Linked DNA regions of Homo sapiens: region 2 is linked to region 1. Evidence: fine-mapped expression QTL. A gene starts in region 1. The other region holds a variant in brackets. All regions are shown on one strand. Distances are between the middles of the regions. Region 1 holds the start of IFT46 (intraflagellar transport 46). Region 2 overlaps ARCN1 (archain 1 coat protein complex I subunit delta).

The links.
Region 2: its variant is fine-mapped to the expression of IFT46 in aorta (GTEx, PIP above 0.99). The same link has a PIP of 0.9 or more in atrial appendage, esophagus muscle, stomach and tibial artery.

What each region holds. Positions count from the first base shown.
Region 1 is chr11:118,563,887-118,567,886 of GRCh38, reverse strand. It overlaps IFT46 (intraflagellar transport 46), which reads left to right and starts at 1,956. Exons shown (of 12, transcript NM_001168618.2): 1 at 1,956-2,097; 2 at 2,826-2,922. It overlaps LOC124902764 (a long non-coding RNA gene), which reads right to left and starts at 2,826. Exons shown (of 4, transcript XR_007062907.1): 1 at 2,513-2,826; 2 at 2,182-2,275; 3 at 1,601-1,685. RefSeq lists an enhancer at 1,684-1,913.
Region 2 is chr11:118,585,591-118,590,118 of GRCh38, reverse strand. All of the region lies in intron 5 of ARCN1 (archain 1 coat protein complex I subunit delta), which reads right to left. Among named protein-coding and RNA genes, the nearest start is that of ARCN1, 15 kb to the right of the region's middle. The variant T/C (reference allele first, on the strand shown) is at 1,565.

The DNA of each region.
Region 1 (4,000 bases):
AATCTGTAGATTGGCAGTAACATCTATCTCATAAGGTTGTGAAGTAAATTAGATGATATAATCTAAGTGCTCCCCACAAAAAAACTAAGTGCTCCTACATAGTAAGTACTGCACATTACATATCCACTATTACGAGCAAAACAGATCACAAATTTTTTTTTAAATGCAGTTCTATTTTTAACTATCAGTATGCCAGAAAAGCTGTCTCTCATTTTTTAAAGGCACTTTCCTTGTTTACCTCTGGTAGGTTTTCAGGGTCAAATTTCCAATATTATTTTCTTTTTAAAATGTATTGCTATTATTATTATTTTGAGACGGAGTCTCGCCCTGTCGCCCAGGCTGGAGTGCAGTGGTGCGATCTCGGCTCACCACAACCTCCACCTCCCGGGTTCAAGCAATTCTCCTGCCGCAGCCTCCTGAGTGGCTGGGATTACAGGCGCGCGCCACCATGCCTAGCTAATTTTTGTATTTTTAGTAGAGACGGGGGTTTCACCATGTTGGTCAGGCTGGTCTTGAACTCCTGACCTTGTGATCCACCCACCTTGGCCTCCCAAAGTGCTGGGATTACAGGCGTGAGCCACCGTGCCCGACCAAAAAATTATTATTGTTATTATTCATTATTTATATTTGAGATGGGGTCTTGATCTGTTGCCCAGGCTGGAGTGAATGCAGTGGCCCAATCTCGGTTCACTGCAACCTCTGCCTCCCTGGCTCAAGCAATCCCCCCGCCTCAGCCTCCCGAGTGGCTAGCACTATAGGTGCGTGCCACCACACCTGGCTAATTAAAAAAAATTTTTTTTTTATTTTTAATAGAGTGGAGGGGGGCGGTTCTTGCTATGTTGCTCTAGCTGGTCTCAAACTCCTGAACTCAAGCAATCGTCCCACCTCTACCTCCTGAAGTGCTGGGATTACAGGTGTGAGCCACCGCACCTGGCCTCCAATATTTTATGTTTCTCTCTCCCTGACTTCCCAAATTAATTATGTCCACAGTTTGAAAATATTTGTTCCTTACATCTCCATTCACTCATTCCTCGATTCATCCACCCAATGAGCATTGTTAGTGTCTAATTTCTGCAATACACTGGTGTTACAAAGCTTAAAAATTAATTAGACACAGGTCTTGCTTTAAATAAGTTAAAAGTCTACTTTAGCAAATAAGAAAGACAGGACACAGAGTGAAAAAAAATTTTTTTTGAGACGGAGTCTCGCTTTGTTGCCCAGGCTGGAGTGCAGTGGTGCGATCTCGGCTCCCTGCAAGCTCCGCCTCCTGGGTTCATGCCATTCTCCTGCCTCAGCCTCTCGAGTAGCTGGGACTACAGGCGTCCGCCACCACGCCCGGCTAATTTTTTGAATTTTTTAGTAGAGACGGGGTTTCACCGTGTTAGCCAGGATGGTCTCGATCTCCTGACCTCGTGATCCGCCCGCCTTGGCCTCCCAAAGTGCTGGGATTACAGGCGTGAGCCACCGCGCCCGGCCCACAGAGTTAAATTTGAACCTCAGATACCCAAGGAATAATTTATTGCTATAAGTATGTTCCATTCCATGGCACCCTGTGGAGGGGAAAGACTATAGTGTAATATAGTGCTAGAAAAGGACTTACAGAGTGCTGCGAAATTTCCCCTGGAATGTGTCTACATCCTGGTAAGACTGATCTGGGAGCAACTGCATCCCCAGAGATTGTTGTCCTAGGGGAACAAACGCACACCTTGTTTCCAGATTGAAGGGCTAACTCTACACCAGCCCGAAATTTATCAGCCGCGTTGCCACCCATAGCCGCTAGATGCCGCAACAGACGTATTTACTGAAACCATAGACAAACAGGCGACTTGGCCGCCCAGAGAGGCTTTATCCGTGACTCCTTGATCTTCTTCCTGCGTGGAGAGCCTTCGCGGGTGAGGCTTAACGCGCAGGAGGTCTCACGAGAGTGGAAGCAACTCTCGCGAATTTTAAAATTTATCTTTTTGCCTAGCGACTGACAACAGGCTGGTTGCTTGGCGTGGAATCCTAAAGTGGCCTGGCTTTGAGACTGGAGTGAGACCCCAGCCCTAGGCTGGGGTTCTTTCCATTATAGAGGAGACGGATTCAGAAGGGCTACAGGTAATTAGTACTCATCCCAGCAAAAAGGGAACTGTCTTTCTAGAGAGGCTTAAGAGGACTCCCCTTTACCCCATTCCCGGTTACCTCTTCCAATCTCCGTGGTAACTGTTCCTTCGTCACCTCACCACCAACCGTCCTGCTTCCTTTATTCCCCCAAGAAACTTAGGTGGGATCCTATCTGCAAGATAAGGGTGAAAGTGGAGGTGATGATTTTGGGATTATCGGATGGGACTGAGAGACTGGAGTTTCCCCTCTCTTCGGGGACCCTCCCACCCTACCCCGCCTCAGCCCACCCCACCCCACCCCACCCCACCCCACCCCACCCCACCCCAGAGGTGACTCCAGAGACAGAACTCTTTCTAGAACCTCTACAGCCTTCCCTGAGAAACCTCAACAGCCTTGGCCATCTACATACAAATAGTGTTCTGCCCTTGCGCGTGGTCGTACAGCTTTGGGAAGCTGCAGAAGTTGGCTCTCTTTCCCTCCACGATTCCCTGGTTCCTCAGCCAGCCTGCCAGCAGTTCCTAAATAAGGGCTGCAACAGAATGACTTAACTGCTTGACCGAGGGCCAGGAAGCCTGAAGGAAAGTTTGGATGGGGTGATGGTTTTGTGAAAAACTGGTTTCTTGAGTAAGGAAGAGGAGCCAATGCTGGTTTGGAATATACCTCCTGGCAGAGTGCTTTATGTCTCATGATAGGAGCTATGAATTATGTCTCCCTTTGCTTAGACCAAGGTTGTTGAAAACCAGACATATGATGAGCGTCTAGAGATTAACGACTCCGAAGAGGTTGCAAGTATTTATACTCCAACCCCAAGACACCAAGGTAAGAGAGGAAAGAAGAGAAATGCTACTGAAAGAGCAGGATGGATTCACGGTTGTCTTCAAGAAGTTCTTATTTTATAATAGCAAATGTTGACTTTCAGCGTCAATTTACTTCACTTGCCATTGTTTGTTTTCTGACTAGTTAAGGGGGAGAAATCATAGCCTTCCAAATTACAGGATCTTCCCCCAATCCAACCCTGTCACCATTTACTTCATGTTACTGCTTTGCTCACTGTCTGCCAGGAATTCACTGTTCTTTTTCTTTTTCTTTTCTTTTTTTTTAACTTATGTTTTTCCTAGCTTTGAAGATGCTTCATAACCTCCCCTTAGCCTGCAACCCCAACCAAAATCACAGTGGAATGTTTTTAAAGGACTGAACACTATTTATTTATTCAACAAACTTTTTTTTCTTAATTTTATAGAGACGAGGCCTCGCTATGTTACCAAGGCTGATCTTGAACTCCTAGCCTCAAGCAGTCCTTCCGCTTTGGCCTCCCAAAGTGCTGGGATTATAGGTGTGAGCCATCGTGTCTGGCCAACAAGCATTTTAAAATGCCTACTGTGTGCCAGCCTTATGCCTGGCACTTGGGTAAATAGTGTTAAATGACACAATGTCCCTGCCATCCCGATGCTGGTAATCATGGGAGGCAGATGACAAATGAGTAAACACATGCCAAATGTGGTAAGTGCACACTGATGGAGGCAGATTGTTTGCTGTTAAGGAGAATAACAGTGAGGAAGGAGACCCACTTTTTTTTTTTTTTTTTTTTTTTTTTTGAGACAGAGTCTCACTCTATCACACAGGCTGGAGTGCAGTGGTGCGATCTTGGCTCACTGCAATCTCCGCCTCCTGGGTTCAAGTGATTCTCCTTCCTCAGCCTCCCGAGTAGCTGGGATTACCACACCCAGCTAATTTTAGTATTTTTAGTAGAGACGGGGTTTCACCATGTTGGCCAGGCTGGTCTCGAACTCCTGACCCCAACTGATCCACCTGCCTCGGCCTCCCAAAGTGCTGGGATTACAGGTATGAGCCACCGTACCTGGCCAGAAACCCACTTTTGATAGGGTGGTCAGGGAAG
Region 2 (4,528 bases), 22 kb before region 1:
GAGGCTAAGGCAGGAGAATCGCTTGAACCACGAGGCAGAGGCTGTGGTGAGCCGAGATTGTCCCACTGCACTCCAGCCTGGGCAACAAGAGTGAAACTCTGTCTCAAAAAATAAAAAAGAAAAGAAAAGAAAAAAGAAAGGTAGAAATCAGAACTCCCTTTCTCCAAGGTCTAATGATTAGCCATCAACAACGTTTTTTTAAAGGTGCTACTGCTATAGCTATCAACATTTAAAAGGCGATACCCTTTGATACAGCAATTCTTCAACAGACTCTATCCTACAGATAAATTCTCACCTGTGCAAAACAATCTGCTAAGTTATTCACTGAAGAATTGTTTGTAATGGCAAAAGTTTAGAAACATGTCTGCCAATAGGGGGCTGCTCAAATAAAGGCATATTCACGGGCGTGGTGGCTCACGCCTGTAATCCCAGCACTTTGGGAGGCCAAGGCGGGTAGATCACGAGGTCAGAAGATCGAGACCATCCTGGCTAACATGGTGAAACCCCACCTCTACTAAAAATACAAAAACAAAATTAGCCGGGTGTGGTGACGGGCGCCTACTCAGGAGGCTGAGGTGGGAGAATGACGTGAACTCAGGAGGCGGAGCTTGCAGTGAGCCGAGATGGTGCCACTGCACTCCAGCCTGGGCAACAGAGTGAGACTCTGTCTCAAAAAAATAAAAAATAAAAAATAAAGGCATATCCACCCGAATGAATAGTAGGCAATGGTGAGAAAACAAACAACTGAAAAAACTTTCTATTTGTAAGTATTTTCAAGCTTAAAAAAATTAAAATTATACAAGGAAGACATATATACCCTTTTCCAGATTCACCTATTGTTAATATTTACCTCATTTGTTTTATAATTTGCACTTGTGTTTCTCTCTCTCTAAACATTATATATGTATGTTATACATTTGATTTTTTTTCCCTGAACCATTAAGAAGCAGATTATATACAACACGGCACTTTACCCCTAAATACTTCAGTGCTTATTTTATAAGATTAGGGATATTCTCTTACATAATCAATCACAGTACCATTATTAACTTCACAAATTTACACTGATAGTTTTTTTAGCTTTTTGTTGTTGTTGTTTTGAGATAGAGTTTCACTCTTCTTGCCCAGGCTGGAGTGCAATGGCGTGATCTCGGCTCACTGCAACCTCTGCCTCCCGGGTTCAAGTGATTCTCCTGTCTCAGCCTCCTGCGTAGCTGGGATTTCAGGCACCTGCCACCACGCCCGGTTCATTTTTGTATTTTTACTAGAGTCAGAGTTTTACCATGCTGGCCAGGCTGGTCTTGAACTCCTGACCTCAGGTGATCTGCCTGCCTCGGCCTCCCGAAGTGTTGGGATTACAGGCGTGAGCCACCGCACCCAGCCTGTTGTTGTTGTTTAAGAGACAGATCTTGCTATGTTGCCCAGGCTGGAGTGCAGTGGCTATTCAGAGACACAATCACAGTTCACTATAACCTTGAACTCCTGGTCTCAAGTGATCCTCCTGCCTCAGCCTCCTGAGTAGGAAGGACTACAGCCATGTGCCATCATGCCAGGCTAACAATGA[T/C]ACAATAATTGTATCCGATCTGTCAACCATATGTCAATTTCGTCAGTTGACCTAATAATATTTTTAATAGTAGTTGTGATATTATGATATACATACATACCGGTTTTCATCCATGGTTCCTAGCTCATAACTCCCATATCCCTTATTATACATAATGTTGGGGCACTTTAGGCCTCAGGAGCAGCCCTTAGAAAAAAGAACCTCTCTTTGACCTTCTCCTGCCCTCCTTTCACCAGCCCAAGGCAGGATCTCCAAAAGGGGTCCTGCACCATATCCTGGAGGAAGATTAATGCTGCACAGAGAGGCCAAGAATTTGGACAGGCCTTGCTGTGTTTCCCCACTCAGCCTATCAGTATTAGGTCATACCCTTGCCCAGTCACATTTCTGCATGCCTGTCAATCATGCCTATCCAATGAAGTCTCCATAAAAGGCTCAAGAGGACAGGGTCTGGGAAGCTTCTGGACAGCTGAACACATGCAGGCTTACAGGAAGATGAACAAGGTCTCATCTATTTTCCAGGAGGGTGGCGTACCCCAGCTCCCTGGGGACAGAAGCTCCTGTGCTCAAGACCCTCCCAGACCTTGCCCTATGTATCTCTTCATCTGGCTGCTTATTTGCATCCTTTAAAATGTCCTCTGTAACAAACTGATAAATGTCAAGTAAGTTTCCCTGAGTTCTGTGAGGTGCTCTAGCAGATTAATTGAACACCCCAGAGGGGGTCGTGGGAGGCCAAACTTGAGGTCAGTAAGAAGTTCTGAAAGTCTGGACTTATGACTGGTGGGAAGGAAGAATCAGTCTTGGGGGACTGAACTCTCAACCTGTAGAATCTGAGGCTATTCCCAGGTAGATAGCATCAGAATTGAATTGAATTGGAGGACACCAGCTAGGTGTGACCGCTTGATGTGTGCGGAAAAATCTAAACACACTTGATCACAGAAGTCTTCTGTGTTCATTGTTGCTGTTGAATGAGAAAATAGAAAAAACAAACAGTTTGAGTTGTTTTTTCTACACTACATTAGTAGAGGATCCAGTCTAGGGTAAGGTATTGCGCATTTAGATGTCATATCTCTGCAGTTTCAAATAAGGAGATTCTTATCTCCAAAATAATTAAATGAAAAATGCAATTGGAAGACGTGTCTAGTTTTACTGCTTTGCATAAAAGGGGGAAAAATAGACACACTGTATACATGTTTTTTATTCATCTGTATATCACAGACCATCCCCCTTAGAAGGATACACAAAAAACTCTGTTAATACTAGTTGTCTCCAAAATGAGAAACTGGCATGGCTGAGTGAGAGGAAGACTTCTGACTGTTAACAACTTTTGAATTTTGTACTATATGAATGTATAATCCAATTTTTAAAAGATTAAAAACTGCTGCTGCTAGAGGCAAGTATTAAGTACAATCTATTCATATTCAGTAATAGACATACGTTTGGCTGGATGAACTACAGAGGCTACAAAAAATATTTTGTTATCCTACCATGTTCTTTGTTCCAACCTCTTAGGTCTTCCTAGAAACAAAGGCATCAGAGTCAAGACCATAAAGGAGTGCATCTTAAGACAATGCATGGTACCATTTTACCTTCACAAAAGTTTGCTCTGTGCTCAAGAGGCAATTTATCATTTAGAAAAAAACAGTGTCTCAAATTCTCTTTAATATGTGATGATCTCCAACATTTTTTTTTTTTTTTTTTTTTTGGAGATAGAGTCTCACTCTGTCGCCCAGGCTGGAGTGCAGTGGCACCATCTTGGCTCACTGCAACCTCTGCTTCCCGGGTTCAAGCAATTCTCCTGCCTCAGCCTCCTGAGTAGCTGGGACTACAGGTGTGTGCCACCACGCCCATCTAATTTTTTGTATTTTAGTGGAGAAGGGGTTAATTTTTTGTATTTTAGTGGAGATGGAGTTTCACCATGTTGCCCAGGGTGGTCTTGAACTCCTGAGCTCAGGCAATCCGCCCACCTCAGCCTCCCAAAGTGCTAAGATTACAGGTGTGGGCCACTGCACTCAGGAATATCTTTTTAAAAGTGTGAAGCCTCTGTCTCACTCAAAGCAACCACTAGGAAGAGCACAGCGGCTTTAGTGAATCAAGAAATTTATCCCAATGTAACCCTGTTCATTTCATACAGAACAGGGCATATAAAGAGTAAATACTTGGCTGGGCACGGTGGCTCACGCCTATAATCCAAGCACTTTTGGGAGGCAGAGGCAGGCAGATCACTTGAGGTCAGGAGTTCGAGACCCACCTGGCCAACACGGCAAAACTCTGTCTCTACTAAAAATAAGAAAATTAGCCGGGTGTGATGGCGTGCACCTGTAATCCCAGCCACTTGGGAGGCTGAGGCAGGAGAATTGCTTGACCCCGGGAGGTGGAGGTTGCAAGATCGTGCCATTGCACTCCAGTCTGGGAGACAGAGCAAGACTCTGTCAAGAAAGAAAGAAAGGAAGAAAGAAAGGAAAGAAGAAAGAAAAAGAGTAAATACTCCTCTTTTATGCACACCTGATAAAGGTATCCTCCTGGTATTATCTTTCACTTGACCTCAAAACCATCAGCAACAGTAGAAGGTCTGGCTTCAAGACGAGAAATCTGAGTCACGAATATGTGAACTTGATAACTACCACTTAAAAATGTCACCAACCAGTACCACAGCCCTGAGATAAGAGATGAATCAAAATATTCCATACTGGCTTCAAATATTTAAACTGCAAAAGATGGCTGGGCATGGTGGCTGACGCCTGTAATCCCAGTACTTTGTGAGGCCGAGGCAGGCAGATTGCTTGAGTCCAGGAGTTCGAGACCAGCCTGGGCAACAAGGCAAAACCCCATCTCTACCAAAATACAGAAATTAGCCCAGCGTGGTGGTGCATGCCTGTAGTCCCAGCTACTTGGGAGGCTGAGGTGGGAGAATCACTTGAACCTGGGAGGCAGAGGTTGCAACAAGCTGAGATTGCACCACTGTAC